Regions from separate parts of the Homo sapiens genome. Here all the other regions are linked to region 3. Evidence: fine-mapped expression QTL. A gene starts in region 3. Each other region holds a variant in brackets. All regions are shown on one strand. Distances are between the middles of the regions. Region 1 overlaps ZBED4 (zinc finger BED-type containing 4). Region 2 overlaps BRD1 (bromodomain containing 1). Region 3 holds the start of BRD1 (bromodomain containing 1).

Region 1 (10,731 bases), 35 kb before region 3:
AAATACAATTCTAAATAACTCACGGGTGAAAAACAAACCGTGAGGTAAACTGGAAAGTGTTTTCAACTGAACGACAATAAAAATACAACCCACCAAATGGATGAGATGCAGCTGAAGTGGTGGTTAGCAAGAAACTGAAAGCTCTACATACCTGTGTTAGAAAAGATGACCTCCAGTCAATAAAGTACTCACCTAAAAGAAAACACTAGAAAAAACAGCAAACCAAACCAATGCAAGCCAAGGAAGGCAGGTGACCTCCTGAAGGCGCAAGAGGTAAGAACGTGCATTTGCCGAGAGCCACCGTTCAAGAGCCGCCAGCATCTTGATTTAGCCCAGTGAGACCCATCTCAGATTTCAGATTCCTAATTTCCGTTTGTGTGAAGCCACTCGGTTTGTGGTAATTTGTTAAAGCAGCACTAGAAAACTAATATAATAGGCAACAGAAAAGAATTCTGTCACATCTCACAGAAGGGTATGAGAAAAACTAAAGAGCAGAAAAACATCACTGCAGATAACGAAATATGCTCACAGAAAAATGTGACCTCAGATTAAATGAAAACGGTAACTTCCTCTTGCAAAGAAACTAAAGAAATTAAGAAAATGATATAAAGAAACAACATAAATCAGGATAGAAAAATTCTGATGTGAGATTATAGGTCCCACAAAAACACTAAAAATAAAAGTAAAATATGACTTCAAGAATGAAGACCTAAAAAAGAAGAAACAGGAGAACAAACTCCACAGATGACAGCTTAAGATAAATGAAAGGGAAACACAATTTTTTTTAATGAAAAAGAAATGAGGGGATTAAAAAAGACTCAAGAGAAACGGACCAATTTAAAAGACACGTAAAGAAGATCCAACATATGTACAATCAGAACAGCCACCCCAGAAACAGGAGGGGACAGGGCAAGAGAACAGAATACTAAACACTTAAAAACCTTTCCTGAATTAGAAATTGTCAAGCCACATAGTGAAAGGGACTGAGAAAATCCATCCTCAACTAATAACACTAATTTATTTTCTAACAAAATTACTAGACTTAAATCCTTTGGGCTCTCAGGCAAAGTACAAAGTCACTTGGAAAGAAAAAACTGTCATGATTTTGACAGCAATGCTTTATCCTAGAAGACCATAGAATAACATAGTTAAGACATTCAAGGAAAAAAGTGAACTAGCCAGGCACAGTGGCCCACGCGTATAATCAGCATCGGGAGGTGGAGGCGGGAGGGCTGCTTGAAGCTGGGAGTTTGAGACCAGCCTGGGCAATATAGTGAGACCCCCAGCTCTACAAAAAATTAAAGGGAAAAAAAAAAAAAAGAAAATGTGAACCAAGGATTTTATACTAAGCCAAACTGACCTTCGAGCACAATGAATGCAGAAAAACTACTATCAAGATGCAGGAAGTCAAGACATCTTGTTCCATGAGTCCTTCCTGAGAGATCTACCGGAGAGCAAACCTCAACCAAAACACAACAGAAACATGAGGACCCAATGTGAGCATTTATTTTTATTTTTGTCCACTCTGTCGCCCAGACTGGAGTGCAGTGGTGTGATCTCTGCTCACTGCACCCTCTGCCTCCCGGGTTTAAGCCATTCTCCTGCCTCAGCCTCCTGAGTAGCTGGGATTACAGGTGCCTGCCACCACACCTGTATTTTAATAGAGACGGGTTATTATTTTTTTTTTTTTGTATTTTAATAGAGACGGGGTTTCACCATGTTGGCCAGGCGGGTCTCGAACTCCTGAACTCAGGAGTTCCGCCCGCCTTAGCCCCCGAAGTGCTGGGATTAGAGGCGTGAGCCACTGCGCCCGGCCCCCGTGTAAGCATTTAACACACACAGTCACGTGCTGCACAGCAACACCTCACTCGGCAAAGAGCAGCGCACCCCACAGTGGCTACATAAGATAACGACACCATCTGTTTACTGTGCCTTTTCTGTTTGGACACACAAATACTTGCCACGGTGTTACAAATGCCTACAGGCTTCAGTGTAGTAACTGCTGTGCAGAGTTGCAGCCTCGGAGTGACAGGTTATACCATCTGGGTTTGTGTAGGTGCACTCTATGAGGTTCACACAACGACAACATCGCTGAGTAACGCATTTCTCAGAACACACCCCTGCCCTTAGTGAGACCCGGGGCTGCCGTCACTTGCAGAGCTAGGACTGAATAAGGGTTTGCAGGGGAGAAACACAGCACAATAGCTGGACTCCGTGGTTTCTGACTTCACGGGGGGGGGGGGGGGCTTGCTGGGATAGAACCCCATGGTCAATCAAGGAGCATCTGAACTTCATCGATGGTTTGACTCGCAATCTTTCAGCTCTACGACGGTTTAATCAGGGCTTTTTTTTTTTTTTTTTTTGGAGACAGGGTCTCACTCTGGCGCTCAGGCTGGAGTGCAGTACACAATCTCAGCTCACTGTAGCCTCAAACTCCTGGGCCCAAGCAATCCTCCCGCCTCAGCCTCCTGAGTAGCTGGAACTACACCTGAGTGTCACCACACCTGGCTAATATTTTAAAACATTTTTTGTAGAGAGGGGGTCTCACTAGGTTGCTGAGGCTGGTCTCAAACTCCCAGGCTCAAGTGATCCTCCCACCTCAACCTCCCAAAGTGCTGGGATTATAGGCGTAAGCCACCATGCCCAGGCTCCAATCAGGTATTAAGTGCATTTTCGACTTTGATGGGTTTATCGGACGTGGCCGTGTCCTGAGTTGCGAAGCATCTGTAGTACGTAATGGCTACACACTCTGTAGTTGAGACCCTGCATAACTACACAGAATGGGAAGACTTAGGCAAAAAATATCTTCACTGTTTTCAGTAATGATATAGGTGGCAGTTGTACTGCCATTGTTATTTTGAGATTGTGATGTTTGTAGCAAGAGATAAAACAGATGAGACATTATGCGATATTCCAATTCTCTCATCTCCACTGTCCTTGAGACCAGCACTCTCAGTGGAAAAAGAGGACGGAGACGTAAGATTAAAGCACACCCATGTGAACGCCCTGCCGTCAGAAAGCAGATCACACACTCCAGCAGAGGCCTAGAACCAGCGGCCAACCCAACAGCAGTGAGCACCTGTCACATGCAGACTGTGGTTTTGAAACTTCCAAGCCCTTAAAAGAAACCAGAGCTGAAGAAATGGCTTATTTCAGGTCTGGAGCCGGAAAAATACAAGATGAGCACAGAACATATCAGACAGCCAGAAACCTCTGAGAGAGTTCAGGAATGATGTCAAAAGGATCCAGGAGCCAGCTTGTAGGGGCTCTCACTGTCCAAAGAGGACAGAATTTAACATCCCAAATATGTTTAAATTCATTAGTTCACCAATACCAACATCAAATCCCTAACTGGTCGCCTCTGGAGGCTGATAGGAAAATGATTCATCATTGTGAAAACTGATGAATTTAAAAAAAGAATCAGGCATTTATCTTCAGTTTTCTCCATGAACTATAACACCAGAGAGTGGATAAGAAGAGGTTTATCTTTAATAGTTCATCTACTACATAAAGAAGCAATAACTCAGCCAGAACATCACACTTTTTTTTTTTTTTTTTGAGACGGAGTCTCGCTCTGTCCCCAGGCTGGAGTGCGGTGGCGCGATCTCAGCTCACCGCAACCTCCGCCTCCCCGGTTCAAGCAATTCTCCTGCCTCAGCCTCCTGAGCAGCTGGGATTACAGGCACTCGCCACCACGCCCAGCTAATTTTTGTATTTTTAGTAGAGACGTGGTTTCACCATGTTGGCCAGGATGGTATCAATCTCTTGACCTCGTGATCCGCCTGCCTCGGCCTCCCAAAGTGCTGGGATTACAGGCGTGAGCCACCACACCCGGCCTACAAAAAAATTTTTAAAACTTAGCTGGGTGTGGTGATGCGTGCCTGTGGTCCCAGTTATTAGGGAGGCTGAGGTGGGAAAATCACTTGAGCCCGGGAGCACCACTGCACTCCATCCTGGGCCACAAAGCAAGACCCTGCCTCAAAACCAACCAACCAACCAACCAACCAAACACAATCTACAAGAAACCAAAGGATAGAGGAACACACTGGGCCTCTCCAGAAGAATGCAGCCAGCAAAATCTAGACCGTGAGATGCACGAGTCCAACCACCAAGTTACCTCAGAAAATACTTCCACGGGAGGTGGGGTGGATAATGTAACCTGTAGATTCAGACTGAAAGGCTGGCCGGGTGCGGTGGCTCACACCTGTAATCCCAGCATTTTGGGAGGCTGAGGCAGGTGGATCACCTAAGGTCAGGAGTTCGAGACCAGCCTGACTAACAGGGTGAAACCCTGTCTCTACTAAAACTACAAAAATTAGCCAGGCGTGGTGGTGGGCACCTGTAATCCCAGTTACTCAGGAAACTGAGGCAGGAGAATTGCTTGAACCCAAGAGGCAGAGGTTGCAGTGAGCCGAGATCACGACACTGCACTCCAGCCTGGGCGACAGAGCAAGACTTAAGTCTAAAAAAAAAAAAAAAAAAAAAAAAAAGGAAAAACTTAACTAATATTTAGAGGTACTCA[G/A]TTCAGTCAAAACAACAAAGAATAAGGAAGTAGCTGCTGTAACAGTAAGATTGAGGCAGCCTCTGCTGGGAGGGGCTGGGGCGGCACGCACAGGGGCTCTGGAAGCTGGCAAGCACCTCTTGACCCAAGCACCAGTTACAACTGTGTCCATCTTATCATATGACTCATTACGCTAGACACTGATTTTATTCAGTTTCTGTATCTGTGCCACACTTTAAAATAAAAAAGGTTTAAAAACACACTTATAAAGCTACACTAGGCTGGGCGCAGTGGCTTACGCCCGTAGTCCCAGCTACTTGCAGGCCACGGTGAGAGACTTGAGCACAGGAGATCAATTCCAGTCTCAGCAAAAAAGTAAGGCCTCCGCCGCACAAAAAATAAGAAAGACAGAGAAACCACCTTCCAAGCGACTTTGCGGCAGAAGCGTTGGGGCCGCTCCGTATAGGTTCCACGCACAGGGCCAACCGCCCTCGGGGACTTACTAACAAAATGAGCCACTTGCATTCAATGATCTCAACTGCTCCGTGCTACATCCAATTCAGTAAAGCACAGTTTTTTCATTTTTCACATTCAGATTGAAGCAAATTAAATGAAAACCCGTTCAAGATACCCCTTCTCACCCTACCATCCTGGCAAAAATCCAAATGCTTAGTAATGCCCTCTGTTGGTCAGGCCCTCTCCCACAGTGCTGACAGGGTGCAGGCCTGTGCGGGGGAACTTGGAAGCACTCACCAAAATTACATGTATCCTCCCACCCAGCAACCACACGCTACGAACAGACCTGAAGACAGTCCTCACCAGAAACACAAAAAATGCAACACACGGCAACGTCAGTCACAGCGGCATCCCACGGCAAAGGATCAGAGCCCGTCAATAGGACCCACACATTCATACATGTGCTGAGCAGAAAAACCAGACACGCAGGGGCCAGCCACGGCAGCTCACGCCTGTAATCCCAGCACTTTGGGAGGCCAAGGCAGGTAAATCGTTTGAGCCCAAGAGTTCAAGACCAGCCTGGGTAACATAGTGAGACTCCCATCTCTACAAAAAATTTGAAAAAAATCAGCTGGCATGGTGGCATGCGCCTGTAGTCCCAGCTACTCAGGAGGGTACAGTGAGAAAATCACTTGAGCCCGTGAGGTCGAGGCTGCGGTAAGCCAAGATCAGGCCACTGCACTCCAGCCTGGGCAACAGAGCCAGACGCTATCTCAAAACAAACAGGTCAGGTGTGGTGGCTCACATCTGTAATCCCACCACTTTGAGAGACTGAGGCAGGCAGATCATTTGCAGCCAAGAGTTTGAGGCCAGCCTGGCCAACACAGTGAAACCCCATCTCTACTAAAAATATAAAAATTAGCTGGGCGTGGTGGCGGGTGCCTGTAGTCCCAGCTACTCAGGAGGCTGAGGCACAAGAATCACTTGAATCCAGAGCGAGACTCCATCTCATAACAAACAAACAAGAAAAACCAGACACACACAGTGTCAACAGCCCATGCTAACTTTTGTGAAAGACAGGAGGGGAAATGAGTTGTGGGTGTGTTTTGCTTACTTTTACAGGACGTAGCAGAAGTAAAAAGCGTTGCCTAGGCCGGGCATGGTGGCTCATGCCCATTATCCCAGCACTTTGGGAGGCCGAGGTGGGTGGAATGCCTGAGCTCAGATCGAGACCAGCCTGGGCAACATAGTGAAACCCCATCTCTACTAAAGTACAAAAAATTAGCTGGGCGTGGTGGTGGGCGCCTGTAGTCCCAGCTACTCGGGAGGCTGAGGCAGGAGAATTGCTTGAACCCGGAAGGCCGAGGATGCAGTGAGCCAAGATCGAGCCACTGCACTCCAGCCTGGGCAACAGAGCAAGACTCTGTCTCAAAAAAAAAAAAAAAAAGGTTGCTTAGAAGAGTGGTGGGGATAAGAAAGGTAGCTTTTATGTAGTTCTGACCTTTATAACAGGTAATTATTTTGTACATAAAATTTGTAAAAAATCCTAAATCTAAAAATGATCTGAAACAAATGGGCAACATAACCAGAGAAAATAATATTTGTCTTATTTCTTTCTTGGGAAAAATAAATAAAATAAAAAATAAAACAAGAGTATTTGTCAAGGAACTTTAAAATACAGCACTTTATTCATCCAAAGTGGAAGATAACTAAGGACAAAAAGAACTCAACAAAAACCTGCAAAGTTAACTAAGCAGTTTTCTTACAGGAGTGGTATTGTAATTCTACAACCTACTGTATGCACATTTTAGCACAAAACAAGGCCAATGATATTATTAAGATTTTTCAGAATAACATATAATTTAAGAATCAAAGAAATTAAGTAAAACTATATATATGTATTTTTTGTTTTGTTTTGTTTTGTTTTTGATACAGGGTCTCACTCTGTCGCCCAGGCAGCAGTGCAGTGACGTCATTGCAGCTTACCACAGCCTCAACCTCCCAGGCTCAAGTGATCCTCCCACCTCAGCCTCCTGAGTAGCTGGAACTCCAGGCACATACCATCATGCCCGGCTGATTTCTGTATGTTTTTGTAAAGATGGGGTTCTGCCATGCTGCCTAGACTGGTCTGGAACTCCTGAGCTCAAGTGATCCTCCCACCTCAGCCTCCTGAGTAGCTGGAACTCCAGGCGCATACCATCATGCCCGGCTGATTTCTGTATGTTTTTGTAAAGATGGGGTTCTGCCATGCTGCCTAGACTGGTCTGGAACTCCTGAGCTCAAGTGATCCTCCCATCTCAGCCTCCTGAGTAGCTGGAACTCCAGGCACATACCATCATGCCCAGCTGATTTCTGTATGTTTTTGTAAAGATGGGGTTCTGCCACGCTGCCTAGACTGGTCTGGAACTCCTGAGCTCAAGTGGTCTCCCCACCTCAGCCTCCCAAAGTGCTGAGATTACAGGTGTGAGCCACCACACCCCGCAAAACTACATAATTTTAATGAAAATTAAAATTAATTTTAACTATAATTCAAATTGACTGAACTCACAATGTTTTAAATACATATTTTCTAGCTGTGTCCGCGAACAGGGCATTAAGCAATAACAGACAAGCACAATGACTACGTCTATGGCCTGGACCTCGGTGTCCAGATGCCTTTCTGCACTAAAAGGAACCCAGGCGCTGTGGAGAAGCAGCTGACGCAGGCCTGGGAAAGACATCACCGTGAGCCTGGGACACTGGGCCAGAAAGGATGCATTCCCAGGACCACGTATGGAGTGAAAAGGACACAGGGGCCAGCTTGGAAGGGGCTCCCAACTAGTCACATTTATAGCTATTTGAGCATCACAAAACAAAAGGCTTTACTAGATTATGACATGGAATAAATAAAATCCACTAGTCCACCTTGATACTCAAGGAAGACAAAGGAAAAGTAAAAATTTGCCCCCACAGAGGTGTCTACTAGACCATCTTCCGCTAAGAATTGGTAATAAAGAGAAAGAACTCAGCATTTTCTAAGACGTAACAAAGAAGGGAAACACAGACAAAAATAAAGAAAAAAAGAACAACAGCATACTAAAGCCAAGGTGCCACTGCCCACAGGTTCTGGGGAGACCAGCAAACAGCATGTGGAGGTCTGATGGGAGCAGAGCGTCCACACACCCCGAGACACCCCCTCATCTAACTCGCCAACTGTGGGGGGCAGGGACACAATTTAAAGGGCCAGTGAGCAAAGTCGCATCCGTCCTCATGGGACAGCCTCCGCCCACAGTGCAGCACACAGCATCACCTGCGCCCCAAACGTGCCCCTGTATCAAATCAGGCCTCCCACCGCCAGATCACAGGGGGTGCTCCGGGGGCACCGGAACGCAAAGAGACCTCACAGCCACTGTGACACGTGGCCCTGTACTCGATTCTGGTTGGGAAAAACAGCTAGTAAAGACGTTGGGGGACAACTTCAGACCGTGGACTGGCTACTGGATGACGCCAAGGGACACAGTCACGTTTTGTAGACGCCATCGATGACGCGACTGTCATTAGACAGTAGAATGTCCCTTTCCCTTTCTTAGGAGAAAGAACACTTAGAGAAGTGTCCAGATATCTGCAGTTTCCTTCAAGACAGTTCAGCACGTGCCAGGTGGCAGCTGGTGGCAGTCACGGTAGCTCCAGCTGGGGGCAAGGGACGTAGGAGTGCCAACTCTGTAAGTTAGAAACTTTATAATAACCTTCAAACAACAGAAATATATTCGTGTTCAACTCAGAGCACACGCACTCTCAACAAGCTGTCGAGTATACCCAGGGAGGCAAAGAGCTATGCATCAAGACTCCGGGCCTGGTTCAGACGGGGACATGGCAGTTTCTCCTCCTGAGGACATAAACTACCATCGGGGCTACACCTGAGTAGCCTTCACCTATTCTGGGGGTGCACAGCAGCATCAACTGCCACAAATTCCAGCAGGAGCCATGGCTCACAACAGCTGCCCACACAGAAGCCAACATCCAGGTCTGGGCTAAACTGAGAAGGGGGCCGGGCACGGTGGCTCACGCCTGTAATCCCAGCCCTTTGGGAGGCAAAGGCGGGTGGATCACCTAAGGTCAGGAGTTTGAGACCAGCCTGGCCAACATGGTGACAGCCCATCTCTACTAAAAATACAAAAACTGGCTGGGCGCGGTGGCTCACGCCTGTAGTCCTGTCCTGGCACTTTGGGAGGCCAAGGTGGACGGATCACGAGATCAGGAGATCGAGACCACCCTGGCCAACATGGTGAAACCCCGTCTCTACTAAAAATGCAAAAAAAAATTAACCGGGCACGGTGGCGCACGCCTATTGTAATCCCAGCTACTCAGGAGACTGAGGAAGGAGAATCGCTTTAACCTGGGAGGTAGAGGTTGCAGGGAGCTGAGATTGTGCCATTGCACTCCAGCCTGGGTGACAGAGCAAGATTCCATCTCAAAAAACAAACAAAAATTAGCTGAGTGCGGTGGCGGGTGCCTGTAATTCCAGCTACTCAGGGAGCTAAGGCAGCAGAATCACTTGAATCCAGGAGACAGAGGTTGCAGTGAGCCGAGATTGTAACACTGCACTCCAGCCTGAGTGACAGAGTGAGAATAAACAAACAAACAAACAAACTGAGAAGGGGAACCCAAAGCTAAAGGTCAAAGACAGTGGCAAGGGGTCTGACTCCAGAAACCCGGAGTCAGAGCTGCTCTGTCAGACGTGCTCAGGAACCCAGGTAAGGGCGTCTTGGAAACGGCACCTTCCAGAGCAAGCCAGCGACCACGCTAAGGTCAGCTGGTCCGTGTTCCATCCCTGAAATGTTCTGGGTCACACGACAGGGTCATGTGGATTGTTCTGCTAGGTGGTTTTGTGGGTCCCCTGTATTTAACACCAGCACCCTCGCCGTGTACCCATACCTTGGGGGTCCGGGCAGTCCCACTAGTGACAGGCCTGACATCGCAGCTATGGCTGAACGCTGCTGGGGAGTCTCTCACTTACAGGATGTGGAGCATGGCTTCTATGACGGAGCAACCAGAGCTCTCCGAAATGCACATGCTCCCGACCCTGCTCCCTGCAGCAAACAGGTGGAGCAGAGACCACCAGGTGGGCCTCGATGAGGAGCAGCTTTGGAGGAAGTCAGCCCCTCAGGGTTTGTCTGTGGAGGTGGCAAGGCAGGAAGGGCGGGGGGCCAGGTCCTCCCGACCCTAATCAGGTAGGGGGCTGCAGCAGTCACAACCCCATCCCCAGGGCCAGGCCAGCATCAGCTGTTTCTATTGCACACAGAGTTTGCTGGGAAAGACATGGGCCATGGCTGCTGAAAAGCCTTCACCTAGAATGAGGTGGGAAGCTGGCTGGCATTGCAGCGCGGCCTTCACCTAGAACGAGGGGTGGGAAGCCGGCCGGGATTCCAGCGCGGCCTTCACCTAGAACGAGGGGTGGGAAGCCGGCCGGGATTCCAGCGCGGCCTTCACCTAGAACGAGAGGTGGGAAGCCGGCCGGGATTCCAGCGCGGCCTTCACCTAGAACGAGGGATGGGAAGCCGGCCGGGATTCCAGCGCGGCCTTCACCTAGAACGAGGGATGGGAAGCCGGCCGGGATTCCAGTGTGGGTCATTTAGGCTGCATGTCCCCTGAATTCCGAAACAACCCGGGGGAGCTGGGAGGCGGCTTCAGCAGCAGGCGCTTGGGCCGGGCAGGAGGTACGCACTGGGATGCCGTGAGGCTGCCTCTGCACCTCATGGACAATGCTCTCCTGGGGCTTCCGCCATCGCCCCCAG
Region 2 (10,731 bases), 33 kb after region 3:
GGCGTTGGGGGAGAGGAGGGTCTCAGGGCTGTGAAGCATGTGCCAGAAACTGATGGCCACGGCTGTCCTGAGGCTGGCAGGGCGCGCGTGTCCTGCAGCTGTGGAGGATGACAGGTGTTGGGGGCCCACTCAGGCCAACTCCCTCGTTGACTTCCTCTCCCCTTTGAGGTAGGGTCAGGGTGCCCCGGCACTGTGACGAGCAGGCCTCATGCGGCCAGGCCTGGGGGACATGGTGAGGACAGGGCTGAGGGCAGACCCAGGTGGCCTACTCTCCTGCGACCATCTGTGTCATGGCCTTTGCAGGGCTCTGATTTTCTTCTGATCACCCTGGTGTGGATGTTGGCTGGGTTGAGGCTGGCGGCCTGTGCTGTCTGGCGCACTCTTCTGTCCACTGAGAAGGGAGCAGGTGCTATCAATGGAAATGGGACCCTGGCTGTGGGGAAACGTGTGTCGGGATGGAGGCGCTGTGCAGGGCAGGGCAGCAGGTCGGCTGTGTGCCAGGCCCCCGTCATGCTCTGTCCAAGCCAGGATGGGCCCAGCATGTGGTTTTCTGTGCACCTGGTTTCTTTCCAGCCGCTCCCTCCATTCCCAGCTGTCCTGGAGGTGGGTCCTCAAGGGTCCCCCATTCTGTCCTGGCCCCGCCTTTGTGGGCCTTTCTGGTTCTGTGAAGGCCCCCCCCGCCGCCAGCTTGCGGAGGCCTCTGTCCTCTCTGGAGGGTGGAACCTGTGCACCGGGGCCAGCCCCCTGCTCACCTTGGCCTGGCGGTCCCCTCTGTCCCCTCCATCCCCTCTGTCTCCTCTGTCCCCTCTGTCCCGGTGCTGTCCTGGGGCTCTCTAGTGAGGGTGGTCTGTTGTCCTCCCCAGGATGGGCCTGCAGGACCCCTGACGTGGATGCCTCTTGGGGTCTCACCTGCATGGTATCTGAGGCCTTTTGCAGAAGGAGCCTCTGGGTTTGACTGACGGAAGTGTTCACTGTTCTCAGAGAGAAAATGATGAGGAGATGAAGGCTGCCAAAGAGAAGCTGAAGTACTGGCAGCGGCTGCGGCACGACCTGGAGCGCGCTCGCCTGCTGATCGAGCTGCTGCGCAAGCGGGAGAAGCTCAAGCGTGAGCAGGTGGGGCTGGGCCTGTCCCGCGTGGAGTGCACCACTGGCCACGGGGCGTGGGTGGGACGCTGGCAGCTCCTGCAGAGGGTGGGCTGCACCCGGTGGGTCCTGGCCCACAGCAGTGCCTTGCTCAGCCCAGGCTGGGTGCCTGGCTGCCATGGGTTGCAGAGCCCTAAGTGGAGGCTGCGTTGTCCTATGCCTGGACGGAAGCACAGGAGCCTGTGGGGGCTGCTTGTGGCTGTGGGGCGCGTGGTGGGGCTGAGACGCATGTGCGGCTCCCTAAAGCTGAGGCTCTGCTGGGCCCCCCCAGGTGAAGGTGGAGCAGGTCGCCATGGAGCTGCGGCTGACCCCGCTGACGGTGCTGCTGCGCTCAGTGCTGGACCAGCTGCAAGACAAGGACCCCGCCAGGATATTTGCGCAGCCCGTGAGTCTGAAGGAGGTGGGTGTTTGCGGCGCTCGTCTGTCCTGCCGCATGTGTGACTGTGGATTTGTGCTGCCGTTTGACCGGGAAACGTGTGATTGGCTAGAGTACATCCCTTGTGTTCTTAATTCTCGTTTTTATTTAACGTATTTGTTTTTAAATTATAAAAGTGATACATTTCATTGTAAAATACTGAAAGTGCAGTGGGCAAGAGGCCCTGTGCAGACAGTACCCTGGGCTGTGGCAGCATCCGCCCGGCACCCTCCAGCGTGCTTTAGCTGAAGGAGCTGGGGTCGGGAAGGTCCCTGCAGTACTTGGGTCTTATGTCTGTACCGTCTGCGTGTCTGTGTGTGGCTCTCAGATAGGATGGGCTTGTGGGTTATATGGAATAATAAATATAGAGTCAACTAATATCCTGTTTTAGTTTGTAAATGATTCTTTTTCCTCCCTAAAATTAGGTACCAGATTATTTGGATCACATTAAACATCCCATGGACTTTGCCACAATGAGGAAACGGTTAGAAGCTCAAGGGTATAAAAACCTCCATGAGTTTGAGGAGGATTTTGATCTCATTATAGATAACTGCATGAAGTACAATGCCAGGGACACCGTGTTCTATAGAGCCGCGGTGAGGCTGCGCGATCAGGGAGGTGTTGTTCTGAGGCAGGCCCGGCGCGAGGTGGACAGCATCGGCTTGGAAGAGGCCTCGGGGATGCACCTGCCTGAGCGGCCTGCTGCGGCACCGCGGCGGCCTTTCTCCTGGGAAGACGGTAAGAACTGGCGCCGTGTCCGGAGGAGGTGGAAGACGCTCTTTCTAGCAGACTCTGTCCTGCTCTGTGTTGCCAGCTCCCTATCAGCATGGTCCGGGAGCCACTAGCATGCAACCGCATACATCATTTACATTTTCTAGTAGCCTCACTGAAAAATGGAAAAGAAGCAGGTGGAATTTACTTTAATAATATGTCTTATTTTACTCAGTGTATGGAAGAGTTGATTTCAACATGGGATCGGTAAACGTTACTGAGGATATATAAGCTTTTCACCTTCTTTGCCATCTGATGTGTATTTTACGCTCAGCACCTGTCACTTCAGACTGGCTGCGTTTTGGGTGCCCACCAAGAGGACTGTGTGGCTGTGGCTCCCTATGGGGTGGCCGGTCTCGACGATGCAGACCCAGAAAGCAGCTTAGTTGGGGGTTTTCATCCAGAGTGGGCCTCGGCTAACTTCTGAGGGTGGCGTGAAGCCGGAGGATCTCTGGCTTTGCCTCCAGCCCTTTAACTTCGTGGTTTGCGCATGTTGTAGAAAGGGCTCTGGGAGTGTGTCCACGGCCCACCTGGACTCCAGCCTGGGCTTGTGCTTCTTGGTTGCCCAGGCACGTGTTGCAGCCATGTGTAGTCACCTGCACCCTTCTCTAGACTGGTCCTCGGAAACCGGGGCTGTCCCCTGCACCCTGCTTGTTAGTCGCACCTCTGGGATTGTCTGTCGAAGGGTGTGTCCTGCCCACATGGGTTGTCAAAGCACATAGAGCTCCAGCACCTCAGCTCCAGCTCTGAGCCACAAACTGAGCAGAAATCACGGTGTGTTTGGCTTATTTGTCTAAAGGTCCCATATCCCTGATTTCTTGGCCTACCCTTTCTCTTGATGAATCACTGACCCGTGCTAGGTCGCTTCTTCTGGGATGAGGCCTGGCCCTCTTCCTCTCTTCCACGTTCCCGCCATCGCGGGGTCCACGTTCCCGCCATCGTGGGGTCCGCTTCCCGCCATCATGGGATTCAACCAAGCTGGGCCATCGTTGCTTCGCCCTCTGTTCCCCTCATGGCAGCAGTGCTGGGCTCCCTGCTTCCCGTGGGGTCCCGCAGCACTCGGCACCTGTGAGGATTGGAGGATGGGCTGTACTCTTTTAAAGACTGGGGATAGGGCCAGGTTCTGTGGCTCATGCCTGTAATCCCAGCACTTTGGGATACCGAGGCGGGTGGATCACTTGAGGTCGGGAGATTGAGACCGGCCTGGCCAACATGCAGAAACCCCGTTTCTACTGCAAACACAAAAAATTAGCCGGGCATGGTGGCGCATGCCTGTAATCCCAGCTATTTCGGAGGCTGAGGCAGGAGAATCGCTTGAACCTGGGAGGTGGAGGCTGCAGTGAGCGGAGATTGTGCCATTGCACTGAAGCCTGGGTGACAGAGTGAGACCCTATCTCCAAAAAAAAAAAGAAAAAAGAGAGAGGCCGAGGCGGGTGGATCACGAAGTCAGGAGGTCGAGACCATCCTGGCTAATGTGGTGAAACCCTGTCTGTACTAAAAATACAAAAACAAAATTAGCCAGGCATGGTGGCGGGCACCTGTAGTCCTAGCTACTCGGGAGGCTGAGGCAGGAGAATGGCGTGAATCCGGGAGGCGGTGCTCTCAGTGAGCCGAGATTACGCCACTACACTCCAGCCTGGGCGACAGAGCAAGACTGTCTCAAAAAAAAAAAAAAGAAAACACAATGGAAATATATTTTTATTCTTTGTCTCTGATTTTCTGATTTTAAGAGTAACACGTTTTTCTTGGAGAAATTTAGAAAATAAACACAGGCTCCAAACAGTGCTGCTGGCTCTTGGTGAACCCGGGTGGAGCTTTAACCCCTCTCTGAAGCTGCGCTCTCCAGGCTGATCAGACCAGCTATCCTTTTCCGAAACATTCCCTTGGGGACCTGAGAGGAGCCAGGGCTGAGCCGCCTCAGAGTGAGCCCAGGGCTCCATGGGCTCATGCTTGTCCTGGAAGGTCCTTCTCTAGCCTCTGGTGACCGTGGGAAAGCTTCCCCCGCCTCCCACAGCCATCACGCTCTGGCTTGGATGCCTTGCCTGCCATCAGCTCTCAGACGCCCACCTGGTGCCCGCTGCTGGCTGCTCAGGACGTACGCTGGTTGCCTGCCCTTCAAAGCAGGAAGATGCATCACTCTTGGACTCCCTGTCTTCTTAGCAGCCCGGAGCCTCCTTTGCCCCTAGGGCCCTGCTCCTGTGCTCCCCCACATCATGCTCCCAGCACCATGCCACCTCCCTCGAACAGAGCAGGTGTGGAGGCCTCTGAGTGTCAGCGCCTTTCAGATCATGGTCATGCAAGTTGTTAAGTGAATTTCTACACCCGGGTTTTTTTGCTAAGGAGAAAATGAAGGATGAGAAGTCCTGGTTTCTTTCTTTCTCAGTATTTGGGAGTGCACAGGTGAGCCAGTGGCCATGGTGTGCCTTGAGGGTGCACCTGCTGCTCTTCTCAGCACGGCCGACACCTCCCATTGCCTGGAGCCTGAGCCACAGACCTGGAGGCCGTGGGTCTCTGTTTTGAAAGAAACAGACGTTTCGAGGCTTTCTTCTTGGGGTTTCAAAGGATATGTTTTTTTGTATGAACATTTTTGAGTATTATCTATGACATTTGTTCAGAGTGATGTTATGGATACGAGTCTTGAAGGACTGATTTGTTTCTCTCTACTACTTTATTTATTCAGCCAAAGAGACAGATGCTTTCAGTAAAACACCTGTTTCTAGATGAAGAGAGTTCATGTGTTTTTGGGCAGTCTTACTTTTTTTTTTGTCTTCTCTCTCCTTCTTGCTCTGGTTTTATCTTCAGATAGCTCTGAGGAGCAGTTTCTTTTCTTGGCCATCTCTTACTTATTTAAGGTAATTTGTGCTTTATAAATTTTGGTGTTTTTGAAAGCGAAGTTTCTAGGGACTTTGTAGTAAATACGTCTGAAATTCAGAATGATCTGTGAATTTTACAACCCGTTTACTAAAGCCACACAATGATCAGCATCTGAAGACTTCAGCTAAGACACCACTTAGGACGTGCAATGGCCCTAACTTAACACATTTGCCAGTCGTCACCTCTGTTTGCAGAGCCAGCGCAGGTCCAGCTGAGTTGTGCTGGGTTGGTGGAGCGTGCGCCTCTCTCTGGGGTCTGTGTGCTGTGCCCTCACCCAGGCAGCCAGGCTGTCTGCACAGGCAGCCTCAGTGGGTCCTGGTCCAGGAGAGGTTGCGATCTTACCTGGACGCTGCCCCTTCTGTGCTGACAGTGTCATGGGAGTAGAAATTCTCCATCAGGAGCATCCCAGTGTGTTCCTGTAGCAGCAGCTACTCGTGGGTTCAGAGTGCAGGGGAGGGGCCTCTGGTGAGCAGGGCCTGGGCCTCGTTGCTAACAGCCACTCTCAGGGCCTTGGCCGAAGGTGATTTGAAAGACGGGACCGGTGATGTGTTCCCAGAAGGTGCGTGGGACCTGATGACTGACAGCATGTGTCCTTTGGTTCAGTGGACAGGTTGCTGGACCCCGCCAACAGAGCCCACCTGGGCCTGGAGGAGCAGCTGAGAGAGCTGCTGGACATGCTCGACCTCACCTGCGCTATGAAGTCCAGCGGCTCCCGGAGCAAGCGGGCAAAGCTGCTCAAAAAGGAAATTGCCCTTCTCCGAAACAAGCTGAGCCAGCAGCACAGCCAGCCCCTGCCCACGGGGCCAGGCTTGGAAGGCTTCGAAGAGGACGGAGCTGCGCTGGGGCCGGAGGCGGGCGAGGAAGGTAAGCCACGGTGAGGGCTGCCCCGCTTTCTTGCCGTCACGGCTCAGGCTCAGGCACAGGCACAGGCACAGACCCAGACACGGGCAGCAGCGTTGGTGTGCACGGAGGCTCAGGTTAGCGCCAGTTCCGTAAAATTCACAAATCCCGGAACACTTGATTTTCCCACTGGGCTGTTGTTTCCTTTTAAGGAGACGTTATCATTTGTGCTGTCTGTGTTTTCTCACATAATCAGTTGATAAAATTTAAGGCACAGAATAAAATTTTTCTCTTTAACTTGGGCCTGAGAAACTATTTGAAAAGAATGGTT[T/A]AGATCTTACACTGTGTTGAAGAGTAAAGGTAGCCTGAATGATGAGAGTGAGAAATGTTTTTGTTGCATTTTGTAAATTGGCGGGGAGCCATTTAATTGTGCGCTAGGCCATCAAATGCAGCATTTTGAAAGGGCTGTTTTAGATTATTGGCACTTAAACACTCCTCCCTGATGTTGTGAAGGGAGGGACGGTACCTGCAGAGGCCTTGTCTGCCCCGAGGGTCCCCGGCCAGCTCCTCTGCAGAGTTGGTAGGTAGCAGCCGTGATCGTTGCCAAAGAATGTCTGGGGAAAGGTCCAGGCAGCAAAGATGTTTTTATGACTAAGAAATAAATGTAGGAGAAGAAATCCGCCTATCTAGAAGGAGAACTAGCAAAACCCAGGGCAAATGCAGGCTTGGCATGGTGAGGAGGGAGTTTACGAGCGATGGTCTGTGTACATCTAGGTTGGCAGGGTGAGGAAGTAGAGCTGGTGTGTCCCATATTTGGTGAAAGAGGAATTTTAAAACTAAATCGGATTTGGAGACGTTGATAGAAAGTCATTGCCACTGTGTTTTGCCGTGTGTCTCTGCAGTTGACCTTGACACGCTCCGGTTACACGAAGCAGACAGTAGGGTCAGACCCTCTTGCCACAACATTGGCAGCTGGTTCTCAGCCTTCTTGCCCTTCCCCTGCACATCCAAGTCAGAACAGCAGACAGTTGAAATAAGACACAGAATTGTTGTACAATTTTCTTTTAAAACAAAGACGTTCATCTCTTATGGACGTCTGTGCTCGGAGTGACGCAGTGTCTTCATGATGCCACACAGGTCAGCGGGTCCCCATGGTCTCAGGGCCCTTTTCATCCCCTGAACTTCTTGTGGCTCCTGTCTGCAGAGCTTCGCCCCTTTTATCCTGTTTTACATTTGGGCAACTTGAATGAGAGCCATTAAGCTTTTCTTTCTCTTAGAAACTTACTCCTGTGCACACAGCTGAGAATTTCTTATGCATCCTTTTGCTCATTTTGTGCCTGTTTGTTGTTCTGTTCTGGGATTCTTCTGTTTAGTTCACCATAGTATAGTACCCAGACTCTAGAATGTCTCTTTTGGGGCTGGCGTCAATTACGTTAGGTCCATAGAATAAAGGCTTTTCTATTTCAAGGTGAGCGCTTGGTTTTCTCTTCTCCCAAAGGCTGTTATTGTTGGCACGTGATCCCTCCTCTGCTTTGGGGGCCTCGTGTTTTTTCTGAGGAACGTTTGCCTACAGGACCCTCTGGCAGCCATACCTGTCCGGGCCCTGGGCCGCCCCATTGTGCCCAGGAGTCCAGGCTGGTGCCTGGTCCCGCAGCCTTTGCTTCCGTGCAGCCCACCGAGGCATCCTCTGGCTGTGTGGGCCTCCCTCTAGGTGGACTGCCCTTCTGTCCTTGTCTTCTGTGCCCTGAGGACTGAGCTGTGAGGAGGTTGCCAGCAGGTCCACTCACCATTCTCAAAATAGCTTCCAGCGCTTCTCTTCGCACACAGTTGTACCATTTTCACTGTAGAGCAGTAAGTTACCTTTTTAGCTTTTTTTTTTTATCAGTGGCTTCCTCCATTGCCATTGGGTCACAGGGCTGAGGACCCCGCACGGTTATTGGGTCACAGGACTGAGGACCTCGCATGGTTGAGGACCTCGCATGGTTGGAGCTGCTTGGCCCTCCGCTGTGGTGAGCGTGGCTCCTCATAACACCCAACGCTTAGCAGGAGCCTTTGGAGACCATTTTTGTTGCTTTGTAGCTCTGGAATCATTTTATTTTTATTTTTTTTCTGGGGCCATTGTAAGGAAAACACAATGTGACTGAGACACAGGTGGCCTCGAATCACCTGTTACACCCAATGTTCACAATGACTCAATTGATGAAAAGGGCGTTTCCTGTGAGCTGATGGGAAGGTGGGTGGAGAAGCAAGTGGCCTGAAAGTCCACTCCGAGGTGAGGCGGGTGGGGTCCTGCCCCTCAGAGAAGTTGGGGGTCTCTGGAGAGGTGGGGCGGGCGGGGTCCTGCCCCTCAGAGAAGATGGGGGTCTGTGGAGAGGCGAGTGCCAGACTGGAATGGGGAAGTCATTAGGGAAGACAGCCACAAGCAAGCTTGTTGGTTGGTATAGAAATGTGACTTACGATACTTATAATAGGATGAAAACCAAGAATCAGACATTTAAAAACCCAGCATGAACGTTCTCATCAGTAAAGCCTCTCCATCATTTTTCTTAAATATAACCACAATATTTTCACACCTGAAAAGAGTAATTCCTCAATGGCAAATACACAGTCTCACTTAAACTGTAATTTAACAGTCTGTGTGTTGTGTTTATATTTTGCTTCCACTTGAAGCAGCTTGAACAAGGCTGTAGCCGTTGAGTGCCAGGCCCCTGAGACTTTAGTGTCTGAAGGAAGGAGATGCCTCCTGGGCTGCACTGTTGGCCCCGGTCTGCCCCTTGTACAGGCCCTCCCGCAGGCTCTGCCGTAGCCGCGACTCAGTCTGCCGAGTGCAGAGGTTCGGGCTGTTGCTGTGAGCTGGCCCTGCCAGGGCTGACTTCCCCGGGGCTGCGTGTCAGCTGGGTGGGGGCCACGCCACAGCTGGGATTCCAGCCTGTCTGATGAGCCTGTGGGACGGATCTGCAGCTGGCAGAGGGCTTGTCTCCACCCTGTGCTGAGGTTGGTGTCTGCTGACATGGTGAGGCAGGTCAGTGCAGTCAGGAGGAGCAGGGTCCGCACCGTGAGCTGGTGAAAGGGGCTTGCATTTCGAGTCCTTGGGATTTCCAGTCACAGTGATGCCCTTGCCAGAGGCTCCGGGGCGTCCCCTTTAGTCCAGGGCAGCTGTGGTCCCTTGAAGTGCACGTGTGGAAGTCCCCCTGCCGTGCACGGGCGCTGAGCACGTGGAGAACTGTGGCCCTCAGGAAAGGAAGGATGCATGTTCCTCGGGGTAGAAGGTGCGGAGTACGCAGCTTTGTCCCTTCAGGATTGCAGAGGACGGAGGCTTGAGGCAGGGTTGTTGGAGGGACAGTGTGGTTGCTGCTCGTGAGCTGAAATGTCTGCCTGTGTTACGCTGTGATTTTCCAAAGCGTCTTGTGGCTTCGATACAGAAACCTTTGATTGACATAGCAGGTGGCCAGGTGGGCAAAATATTGCGGAATTGTTCTTGCAGACTTAACTAGGTTTTAGTTTCTTAGAGTAGCTGGTTTGGATTAGATAACCATTTTGCCATTTGGAATATGTGACAAGTTCCAGGGACTGGAATTCTAGGATCCTGACTGATACATTGACGGGGTCTGAGAGGCTTATGCCCGAGTTGTATCGAGCATGTTCTGAGCTTTTCCCATGTGCAGTTCAGTGACAGCCTGAGATGGCCCAGAGTCAGTGAGCTTTGAGAGGAGTCTTCCTTCTTGTATGTCAACTTCCAGTCACATTTCCACTCGAGGGACGGGTTGGGCTTGCCTGTTGTGTCGTGGAGCCTGGAGGCTCAGGTCCTGTTTTTTTCTGATTTTATGGATGAGGAACTGAGGCACTGAACGGTCCGGGGGCCTCTGTGGTCCCGGCTGGGGGAGGGGCCTGTGTGGTCCCGGCTGGGCAGGTGGCTGAGCACCCAGACGACAGCGACCTCTGTTCCTGACCACGGCCTCCTTTGTGCCTCTGGTCAGTGCTGCAGGAACGCATCCTTTAGCCTGCGTGCTGGCGGCTGGAGCCCGGCCTGCATGTGGAGCTGCCGCAGAGAGGCCAGGGGCGTGTGGGGTGCATGCATGGCTGAGACAGGGCCACAGGGGCCCGCTTTGGGATAGACCAGGGGTTAGGGAAGTCCCTGCAGCGTGGAGATGGTTATGAGTCCCACATGGGGCATCCTAGCTGGGCCGAGAGCTGGAGGTGTGGAGGAGGGGTTGTGGACCATGGTTGGGGAGGGCCTGCTGCAAGGCAGGGACGTCTGCACGTCTCAGGGCTCCTGCCAGACAGGAGTGGTGGTTCTGAGGGTTGCACCAGAAGCAGGAGATGGGGGTTTACGGTGCCCGTTAGATAGCTGTGGAGAAGGTGGGCTGTAGGTGGTTGGGGGAAGGGGGGTCTCCCGGAGGTGCTGGGAGGAGACTCCTTCAGGCTCCATCTCTGCTGGCCGGGTGCTGTTGCACCCATAGAGGCCAAGACTGGGGTTGACCACTGGCCTTGGCCCTGCAGAGGCCATTGGGATTGCAGTGAGCAGTTGAATGTCGTAATCAGGGCGAGAGCTCGGGGCGGGGGGGGGAGGCTAGGAGGTGGAAGAGGAGGCAGGAAGTGAAGTGAGGCCCCAGGCCCTGTGCCCCAGACACCAGCTGCGTCAGGACGCTGCAGGCTCAGTGCTGAATCCCCTCCTGCTGCTGTACAGG
Region 3 (10,731 bases):
ATCATATTCTGTAATCTTTTGAGATTTCTTTCTTCCATTTAAAATTATGTGTTTGAGATTTGGCCGTGTTGGTGGTGGAATTCATTCATTTCTGTTGCTGTGTGCTATTCCATTGCGTGGATACACCTCACTTTGTCCATTTTACCGTCCTTTGATATTTAAGATTTCTCCCAGTATTTGCTATTAAAAACAGCGTTAAAATAAAAAAAAAAAAACACCAAAAACAGTGTTGCTCTGAACATTCATGCACATGCTTCCTGATGAACAAGTTTCTTTTTTTCTTTTCTTTTTTTTTTTTTTTTTTTAGATGGAGTCTTGCTCTGTTGCCCAGGCTGGAGTGCAGTGGCGCAATCTCTGCTCACTGCAAACTCTGCCTCCTGGGTTCACACCATTCTCCTGCCTCAGCCTCCTGGCTAATTTTTTGTATTTTTAGTAGAGATGGGGTTTCACCGTGTTAGCCAGGATGGTCTCAATCTCCTGACCTCATGATCTGCCTGCCTCAGCCTCCCAAACTGCTGGGATTACAGGCGTGAGCCACGGCGCCCGGCCCTGATGAACAGGTTTCTTAGGCACACACCCAGGCACGGAATGCACCTAGGAATACAAATTGACTTAACCCTACAGCCGGGAATGGGTATGCACACTGGGGGAGCTTGCATCTTCTCAAAGTGGCCACAACAACTTCTCCCATACAGCATGCTTCTCTTAAAATGTGATGATAACACATGTCCCAAGAGGTGGGGTCTGTATTCTCCCTAACTCTTGAATCTGGACAGGCTTGTCCCTATGGCAGAAGTGATGCGTGTGACTTCAGAAGCTAGGATGTGAAAAGTGATACAGGTCCCACCTGCTTCTCTTGAGACCCTTGCTCCTGCAGCATGGCTACTATTCCATGAGGATGTTCCCAAGGCCCTCAGCCCAGAGCCTGGATCAAGGTCCCAGCCACGTGAGTGCACCATCTTGGAAGTGGCTCCTCCAGCCCCTAGTGGAGGTGCCCCAGATAAGGATGCAGGAAGTAGTCTAGTTGTACCTGCTGAATCCTGCCCAAATAGCAGATGTGTGAACAAAAGGAATGACTGCTGTTTTGAGCTACAAAGTTTTGGGGGTGGTTTGTTTTGCAGCAAGAGGTAACTGATAAACATGTCCACTTTCACTGGGTAACGCCTTATGACCAAGATATTTACCAAATAATTGTCCCACTCGACATTCTGGCCAGCAGGGTATTGCTCTGCCATCTTGCCATCGCTGAGTATTGCCACATATGAACGCTGGTGCCTATTTGGTGTGTATTTTGTTTGCATTTCCAAATTTACTAGTAAGATGATTGGCCTTTCCATGTTCTCTGCAAGAAGCCTGATTATGACATGGGTTTCTTTGTTGATTTGGGTTTTGTGCATCATTTTGTTGGCTTGTTTGTCTCTTTCTAATGGATCTGAAGGGGTTCTCTATATATTCTAAATACTAATCATCTGCAAGGTGTACATATCTTTTAGTTTTTCATTCTTCAGTCTCTTTATGGTGCCTTTTGAGGAACAAACATATGATAATTTCCATCCTTTCATTTACGAAATGGAGTCTTGCTCTGTCACTCAGGCTGGAGTGCAGTGGGGCAATCTTGCCTCACTGCAACCTCAGCCTCCTGGGTTCAAGTGATTCTCCTGCCTCAGCCTCCTGAGTAGCTGGGATTACAGGCACGTGCCCCCATGCCTGGCTAATTTTTCTATTTTTAGTAGAGATGGGGTTTCACTATGTTGGTCAGGTCTTGAACTCCTGACCTCAGGTGATGCACCTGCCTCGGTCTCCCAAAGTGTTGGGATTACAGGCATGAGCCACTGTGCCTGGCCCCATCGTTTTATTTTTCATCTGTTATTTTTCAGGTGAATTTCTTGTAAGAATATTTCACCATATTTATATTCCATTCAGAGAGGTTGTCTTTTAATAGATGCATTTAATCCAATCACATTCCTCTGATTACTCAAATGTTTGAACTTAGTTCTGCCAACTCATATTATGTTCTGTATTTATCATGATTTTATCTTTTACTCATTCCTGTTTTTTTTTTGTTGTTGCTGCTGTCGTTTTTCATTTCGCTTTTTCCTCAGCTGTTCTGAAAGTGGTAAATTCTTTTTCCACCATTCTTGTGGAAACTTTCTGATAGTTAAAACTTTTTTTTTTTGTTTTTTTGAGATGGAGTTTTGCTCTTGTTGCCCAGGCTGGAGTGCAATGGCACCATCTCAGCTCACTGTAACCTCCACCTCCCAGTTTCAACCAATTCTCCTGCCTCAGCCTCCCAAGTAGTGGGATTACAGGCATGCGCCGCCACGCCCGGCTAATTTTTTTTTTTTTGTATTTTTAGTAGAGATGGGGTTTCTCCATGTTGATCAGGCTGGTCTTGAACTCCCGACCTCAGGTAGTCTGCCCGCCTCGGCCTCCCAAAGTGCTGGGATTACAGGTGTGAGCCACCATGCCCAGCTAAAATTTTTAACCTTTTTTTCTATCGATTCTAAAATCCTCGAACCAAACAATACAAGAGCTTTCGTGCACTTTCACTTCCTTCTGCGCCCCGCCTTACCATGTGTCATGTTGAGTTCATCCGGGATTTCTCTCAGGTTGATTTTCTTTTAACGGACCAGACTGATTTACTTGCTGGCATCCACGTCTTACTCTTGGGTCCACTTTTCACTTTGTTAAGGTATTTCTTCTAGTACTTTTACAGACTGCGTGTGTGGTAAATGTGGATGTTAACCGGCGGTGAAGACACCTTTATTTTGCTGTCTCACTGGAACGCTAGTTTCACTGTGTATGAGTTACGGTTCAATTCTCTTAGTATTTTGGCAACCCCTCCTCTGTAGGATGAGTCTGAATTCTAAAGAAGATCCTCTCCGAAGGCCTTCCTGAGTATCCCTGTGACATGCCTACGTTCGAGGCTTTGTTCTTCACTCCTCTGAGCATCACCTGCATTGTCTGAGAGGCCACTGTCCCCGTCTCCTCTTCTGTGAAGGGTTTCGTGTCTTTTCATCTTCTCTTTCATGAGACTGTGTCTTACTTTTGCTCTGTGTTGTGGAGAACCTCCAGCTTGGTTTCCATCTGGCTTCCCTGAGGTGGAGGAGAGAAGCGTTCGGGCTCAGCTTGCTTGTTTGGCCACAGGTAAACAGACATCTGTAGAATGGAGGTGACACGAAGCTCCTGGGTCTGGTGCAGAAGAGGTCAGGGCCCCAGTGGCCTGTACCCCCTAAGCTCAAGGGTGTGTCTGCAGGGAGTCCTAGATCAGGACTGACCACTGGGGCCTTGGCTGGGGTCCTACCTGCCCTTGAGTCGTCACGTCACAACCCACACACTGGGTGCCATGGGCATGAGGACTGGCCAGGAAAAGGCCTGTGGGGCCTGGCCCCTATCAGGGACACTTGGGCGAACAAGGCCACCCCACTCCCAATAAGGTGTTTGGTGCAGTGCCCCGAGCAGTGGGGCCGCTCGGCTGCCCCCGTGGGGACGGTCTGTCCCAGGGTGGACAGCTGCTCTTCCTGAGGGGCCTGCCTGGATGCCACAGGCTGTGCTGCTGGAACCCAGGGATTCCACAGCACCATCGTCCTGATCACAAATTCTCAAGGAAACCAAGGAGCTCCTGCCTCACCTTAAAACATTTGGGATTTAATCTTGGAGTGAAAATTGTTATGACCCCACTGAATTTTAGAGTTTACACAAAAGGCCAAAGTGAAGGCAGAGACTCAGGCCTCTCAACTCCCACCCGCAGGGGCCTTTTCTTGCAACCTTAAAGGGCATCTGCTTCACGCCGGCCTCGGCAGGGCCCTCACACTGGCAGGACTACTTGCACACCGGGCCTGACACTCACTAGGGGAGGCTCCCCAGCCCGGCTGCACCACCCACCTCTACCTAGTCGCGTGTCCCGGCCAGTGCCCTTTCCACTCCCACCCAGTGCCCCCGCAGGGCCCCCTCTGTCCTCTTAGGGACCTCCACTCCCGGACCAATAGCCTCCTGCCTCAGGGCCCCCCACTCATGGGCCAATCGCCCCCTGCCTCAGGCCTCCCCCCACTCGTGGGCCAATCGCCCCCTGCCTCAGGCCCCCACCAACTCGTGGGCCAATCGCCCCCTGCCTCAGGGCCCCCCATTCCTGGGCCAATGGCCTTCTGCCTCAGGGACTCCCACTCTCAGCTGGTCCCCCCCGCCTCAGGGACCCCCACTCCTGGCCGTTCCCCCGTCAGGGCCCCCGACTGGCGGCTGCTCCCCCATCCTGCCTCGGGGCCCCCCACTCCCGGGCCAATGTCCTTCTGCCTCAGGTACCCCCACTCCCGGCCCGTCCCCCCGCCTGTGGGCCCCCCACTCCAGGCCGGTGGTAGCCCCTGCCTCAGAGCCGCCCACTCCTGGGCCATCTCCTGCCTCAGCGACCCCACTCCTGGGCCAATGCCCTTCTGCCTCAGGGACCCCCACTCCCAGCCGGTACCCCCCTGCTTCAAAGCCCCCGACTCCCGGCTGCTCCCCACCTGCCTCGGGGCCCCCCACTCCTAGGCCTACGTCCCCCTGCCTCAGGGCCCCTCATTCTCCATCCTCCTGACCCCCTCAGGGACCTTCTGGCCCGGTCCTCCCTAACTCAAGGGCCCCCACTCTCCATCCTCCCGACCCCCCACTCCCAGCCCGGTCCCCGCCGCCTCAGGGCCCCCTTTGGCCCCCGCTCCTCGCGGCGCCCCCTCCCCCGCGCGCGGCCGAGGCAGCGGAGTCCGCGCGTCATGGCGGCGGCGGGCGGGGCGCGTCTCGCACGCAGCGCGCCGGGCGGAGCGCTCGCCGCATTGTTTGCTTCGCTGGGGAGCGAGCGAGCGACCCGGCCCTGGAGTCCGAGCCAGCCCCGCGTCCCGCGCCCGCCGCCCGCCGCCCGCTCCCGCGCCCGCGCCCGCGCCCGCCGGCCGGGCCCCCCGAGCCGGGCCTCCAGCTGGGCCCCGAGCCCGAGCCCGCGCCGCGCGAGCCGCTGCCCGAGAGTCCGCGGCCGCCGCTGCCGGGCCCGGAGCCGCCGCGGCCGAGAGGGGCCCGCGCCCAGGAGCGGCGGCGGGGCCCGGCCTGCGCGGCCGTTGGCGGAGGAGCCGCGGGCGCCATTAGCACCGCCTCGGCCGCGCCGGCCCCCGCGCCCGCCCGCTTGCCGGGCTCCCGCGGCCGCGGCGCCCCGAAGGTGAGTGGGCGGGGGCCTGGCCGGGGAGGCCTCCCCGCCGCCTCGCGGGCCGCCCGGCCGCCGCCGCCGCCTCGGCCCGGCCTCTCGGGGTTGTGGTGCCGACGCCATGTTTGGCGGCGGCGGCGGCGGCGGCGGCTCCGCATTGTCTGCGGGCCGGGAGCCCGGGATGCCGGGGAGGCCGGGCGGGGAGACCGGGGAGGTCGGGCCGGGCGGCCGGGGAGACGGGCGGGAAGACGGGGAGGCCGGGCGGGGAGACCGGGTAGGTCAGGCCGGGGAGTCGAGGGAGGCCGAGTCGGGCTGTGGGTCTCGGCGGCCTGGGCCGCGGGCGCCTGCCCGGAGTCCGCGCTCGAGTCGGGTCGGGCCTCGGGCAGCCGCCGAGCCGGCCGGGCCGCCCCTTATGTAACAGACAGGCCCGCCGAGCTCTGCCAAGACGGGAACTCCCTGTGAGCAGGGACGCGCCCCGAGATCGCCCAGGAGCCGCGCGGCCTGCGGCGGCCGGGCTTGGGAACCGGCACCGCGGCCTCCCCGGGCGTTTGCAGGGAGACGCCTCGCGACGAACGCGAGGCTTCCCCGGGCCTTTTAAAACGAGTGACACGATTGAGGCGCAGTTCACGGGAAACGCGGCTCTTGTGAGCGGACGCGGGAGTTCTGAGAATCCGTAGCAGCGGGACCCCCTGCCCCGCGGGGTGCGGCCCCGTCTCCCCAGAAAGCGCGGCCGCCCGTGTCTGTTTTTGAGGGTCTGTCGCCAGGTGGTTGTGTAGTTAGTGGAATCGGCGGATGTTTTTGTTTGGCCGGCCCAGCGCCGTCCCGAGTGCTGTGTGCTGCACACAACTTCGCACAGCTCAGCGGCCGCGGCCCCTGTGGCCTTGACCGAGAGGCCCGGCGCGTGGCCGGCTTCTCCCTGGGCGGGCGGTGGGAAGATGGAAGCGGCCGTCTTGTGGGCAGCCTTCCCCGCCTGTGGCCCGCAGGGCTCTTCGATGTACTTAAGGGAATTATTCCTTGAGAAGCTACGTGTGTGCCCCCGCGGATCCCTCCCAGTGGAAATGCTTGTCCCAGTGGAAGGGCCAGGGACAGAACCGGCCCAGGGGGGAAGCGGTGAAGCAGAGGAGGTCGTGGGTCGCCCTGCCCTGCTGAGGGCCTACTTTCCCCGGGTCCCAGTTGCATGTTGAGGGTATGGAGCTGCTGTGGCCGTGAAGCCTTCGGTTCAGTTCTCCCCTTGTAGAAAGTGTTGCGATGAAGAGCTTCACGGCTCCCTGGGAGAGAGTGGGTTTCCAGGGGCTGCTTGTCGTTAGGGCGACTCAGGACTTTGCTGTCGAGGGGAAAATGACAGGTTCGTTTCTGATCTGGTGAGTAACCAACTGTTGCTTCTGCCCCACCTCAGTAATGACGCGTGTCGGCGTCCCGGGTGCACTAGGGTCGCTCTCTGCAGGCTGTGGTGTCACCTCTGCAGGGCTCACGGGGCCGGCTGGGGGGTGGCTGTGCTGACAGCTCCCCAGGAATCCAGGGTTGAGTGGGTACCTGGAGGCCCTGGAGATGCAGGGGGTCTGAGGTTTGGCCGACCACATTTTCTCTCCTATTCCTTTCTGTAGGTAATTGCAATCTAGTTTCAACATACAATGAGGATTTCTGTCTGATACAGAGAAAGATACCCAGTGTCTGGAGGGTCTGTCTTAAGAAGTGCTCTTGAAGTCTGCTGGGATTTCCTTTCGGGACTCACAGAGGGAAGCCTGCTCCCTGAGGGCTTTTTCTCAGGCCCAATAGATCAGGGTAAGGCTGCTGTGGGTGCCCCTGATCCCCCTGGGCCCCGAGGCCAGGCGTCCCTGACGTGGCAGGGCTAGATGCAGAGTATGCCTTGGGCTTCAGCTGAGAATATTTGTTTTGCGAGTCAGTCACTGAAAAATCATTTTGCTTCCTGTCAGTGAAGTGTGGCGCTTTGGAGGGAGGCACTGCCCAGCAGGCGGTGGTCTTCACAGGAGGTGTCCACACACCAGGCACCCTGGGGACAGCTAGGAATAGACGCAGTCCGTGGTGTTGGGACAGCAGAGGCCTCTGCCACGAGGAGCTGGAGGTATGGGAGGCAGCTCACTGGTTTTGCCTACCTCTGGAAAAGCAGATTCTCCTAAGCCTCTGTGGCCAAGTCTTCAGGCACCTGAGCCAGCGCTGGCGACCCTCCTGGTGAGGGTCTCTGCAAGCAGCGAGGGGTTCCTGGGGGTCACCCCTCGCTGTGGAGCCTGAGTGGAGCGTCTGCCTTCACGTGTGCCGGGGAGAACAGAGATTCCCTTTGGCGTCATGCATGTGTCTGGATTCTCTCAGAAAGGAGGAGGACGTGGAAGGAGGAGGACGTGGCCAGCACCATGGTCTCAGTGGGGCTTGAGGAGTGCCCCTGAGGGGAAGGGGCAGGTTGGCTCAGCCTGTGGTGGTTTCCATGGTGGTCACTGCCAAGGCTCTGCAGAAGCGGGGTTGGGGCCTCCCAGGGGCCAAGACTGTCCCCTCAGACCAGTACAGGGCTCCCCTGTTGGTCCCCTGTGCCGTGTTGTGCGTGTGGAGGGCCTGTCTATAGAGGATGGACAGGCTGTGATCTGTCTCCTACCCCTGGCCCCAGCAGGAATGCTGCAAGGACTGTGGTGACTCTGGGCTCATGGGAGTGCTCTCCTGGGAGTAGTGGGGAGGGGAAGAGTGGTTTAGGGGGAGCATCCGATAGGACCAGGTAGCCACTGAGCATGCCTGTCTGGTGGGCATAGCCTCTGTGCCTGGTGGGGTCCAGCCCTGTATGTGGACTTCCTGGGGGACCGCCTGCATGCTGGGAAAGTCCTGCAACTGTGGGCTCTGGGCCGGACCCCTCCTCCTTGGGGAGCGTTGCTGTGGTCTCCGCAGCCTGTTGGTGTGGTCTGAGAGGGGACTGGTGTGTGGTGGTAGGGACGCAGGTGCTCAGGAGGGCTCCTCAGGCTGCCTCTCTGCCTGTTACTGCTGCTCCCTCCCTGGTCCTGGGGACTCGCTCAGGCCTGGATGTGTGGTTTTGGACACCTTGGAAAGAGGTTAGCTGTGAGTTTTGCTTTGATTGGGCTTTGAGCTGCTGAGCTAGATCTGTCCAAGCATGCTTTTGTGGTTTTCTCGAGTCTTTGGTCACCCTGCGTAGAATTACCTTTACTTTTGCCTTCATTTTAGGTAATCATTACCAAATGAGGAGGAAAGGACGATGTCATCGAGGCTCTGCAGCGAGGCATCCTTCTTCCCCATGCAGTGTTAAACACTCCCCTACGCGAGAAACGCTGACCTACGCTCAAGCTCAAAGGATGGTAGAGATAGAAATTGAAGGGCGCTTGCACAGGATCAGTATTTTTGATCCCCTGGAGATCATATTGGAAGATGACCTCACTGCTCAAGAGATGAGTGAGTGCAACAGCAACAAGGAAAACAGCGAGCGGCCTCCTGTCTGCTTAAGAACTAAGCGTCACAAAAACAACAGAGTCAAAAAGAAAAACGAGGCCCTCCCCAGCGCCCACGGCACGCCGGCCTCGGCCAGTGCCCTCCCGGAGCCCAAGGTGCGCATCGTGGAGTACAGCCCTCCGTCCGCCCCCAGGAGGCCTCCTGTGTACTACAAGTTCATCGAGAAGTCGGCCGAGGAACTGGACAACGAGGTGGAGTATGACATGGACGAGGAGGACTATGCCTGGCTGGAGATCGTCAATGAGAAGCGCAAGGGCGACTGCGTCCCCGCCGTGTCGCAGAGCATGTTTGAGTTCCTGATGGACCGCTTCGAGAAGGAGTCGCACTGCGAGAACCAGAAGCAGGGCGAGCAGCAGTCTCTGATCGACGAGGACGCCGTGTGCTGCATCTGCATGGACGGGGAGTGTCAGAACAGCAACGTGATCCTCTTCTGCGACATGTGCAACCTGGCCGTGCACCAGGAGTGCTACGGGGTGCCCTACATCCCCGAGGGCCAGTGGCTCTGCCGCCACTGCCTGCAGTCGCGGGCCCGGCCCGCCGACTGTGTGCTGTGCCCCAACAAGGGTGGTGCCTTCAAAAAGACAGATGACGACCGCTGGGGTCACGTGGTGTGTGCCCTGTGGATCCCAGAGGTCGGCTTTGCCAACACGGTGTTCATCGAGCCCATCGATGGGGTGAGGAACATCCCTCCAGCCCGGTGGAAACTGACATGCTACCTCTGTAAGCAGAAGGGCGTGGGTGCCTGCATCCAGTGCCACAAAGCAAACTGCTACACAGCATTCCATGTGACGTGTGCCCAGAAGGCTGGCCTGTACATGAAAATGGAGCCCGTGAAGGAACTGACTGGCGGTGGCACCACCTTCTCCGTCAGAAAGACCGCTTACTGTGATGTCCACACGCCTCCAGGCTGCACCCGGAGGCCTCTGAATATTTACGGGGATGTCGAAATGAAAAATGGCGTCTGTCGAAAAGAGAGCTCGGTTAAAACGGTCAGGTCCACATCCAAGGTCAGGAAGAAGGCAAAAAAGGCTAAGAAAGCTCTGGCTGAGCCCTGCGCGGTCCTGCCGACCGTGTGCGCTCCTTATATTCCCCCGCAGAGGTAAGCGTGTCCAAGCATTGAGTCCACAAGGAGCCTGCAGTGTGGGACCCTGGGAGGACGTGGGCACAGCCTGCAGGGCCCGTGCTGTGTGGTCATTGCGTTTCTAGTTGGCGCAGCTTCCTAATATTCCCCTGAAGTGTGGTTCTGCTTGTTTACCACGTCTTTTTGGGGAATAGATGTTGTAAAAGATTTTAGTCTGTAGGCTTGGAATAATCTGTAGTTTTCTATGTTTTTTTTTTTGGAGACGGAGTTTTACTCTGTCGCCCAGGCTGGAGTATAGTGGCGCAATCTCAGCTCACTGCAACCCCCGCCTCCTGGGTTCAAGCAATTCTCCTGCCTCAGACTCCTGAGTAGCTGGGACTGCAGGCGTGCGCCACCATGCCCGACAAATTTTTGTATTTTTTAAGTAGAGACGGGGTTTCACCATGTTGGCTAGGCTGGTCTCAAACGCCTGACCTCAAGTGATCTGCCCGCCTTGGCTTCCCAAAGTGCTGGAATTACAGCACTTGCTCAGCCTTTTTTTTTTTTAAATAGGGTTTTGCTCTGTTGCCCAGGCTGGAGTGTAGTGGCACGATTTCAGCTCTCTGCAACCTCTGCTGCCAGGTTCCAGCAATTCTTGTGTCTCAGCCTCCTGAGTAGCTGGGACTACAGGCGTGTGCTCCCATGCCCAGCTAATTTTGTATTTTTAGTAGAGGCGGGGTTTCACCATGTTGCCCAGGGTGGTCTGGAACTCCTGAGCTCAGGCAGTCTGCCTGCCTCTGCATCCCAAAGTGCTAGGACTATAGGCGTGAGCCACCATGCCCAGCCGTGCGTGAAGATTTTTAAGAATTTCAGTGACTAAACTTTAAGAAGGAATGAAGCCCACGCAGGAACTCTGTATGACTTTCAACCCGAGGGGCTCTGGCCTGGGCTTCCCAGTGACTGCCGGCATCGGGACATCCACTGCTGTGGCCTTGGCCCCGTTTCCCGTGCTGTGCCCCCCACTTGCTGCAGATGCCCTGAGGAAAGG

The links. PIP is the estimated chance that this variant, and not a neighbour inherited with it, causes the effect.
Region 1: its variant is the best candidate, but not a certain one, in a credible set for the expression of BRD1 in whole blood (TOPMed, PIP 0.68).
Region 2: its variant is the best candidate, but not a certain one, in a credible set for the expression of BRD1 in whole blood (TOPMed, PIP 0.87).

Annotation. Positions count from the first base shown.
Region 1 is chr22:49,856,453-49,867,183 of GRCh38, reverse strand. All of the region lies in intron 1 of ZBED4 (zinc finger BED-type containing 4), which reads right to left. LOC124905147 (a long non-coding RNA gene) reads left to right here and starts at 9,528. Exons shown (of 2, transcript XR_007068156.1): 1 at 9,528-9,690. It also overlaps a transcript of ALG12 not described here. RefSeq lists enhancers at 7,707-8,244, 9,847-10,507. The variant G/A (reference allele first, on the strand shown) is at 4,523.
Region 2 is chr22:49,789,370-49,800,100 of GRCh38, reverse strand. BRD1 (bromodomain containing 1) reads left to right here. Exons shown (of 13, transcript NM_001304808.3): 4 at 982-1,113; 5 at 1,415-1,543; 6 at 1,984-2,296; 7 at 5,807-6,067. Among named protein-coding and RNA genes, the nearest start is that of BRD1, 33 kb to the left of the region's middle. The variant T/A (reference allele first, on the strand shown) is at 6,375.
Region 3 is chr22:49,821,942-49,832,672 of GRCh38, reverse strand. BRD1 (bromodomain containing 1) reads left to right here and starts at 4,800. Exons shown (of 13, transcript NM_001304808.3): 1 at 4,800-5,176; 2 at 8,342-9,722. The coding sequence starts at 8,356. It overlaps LOC105377205 (a long non-coding RNA gene), which reads left to right. Exons shown (of 5, transcript NR_188597.1): 5 at 1-224. RefSeq lists silencers at 4,666-4,735, 5,466-5,635 and enhancers at 6,136-6,335, 7,545-8,124.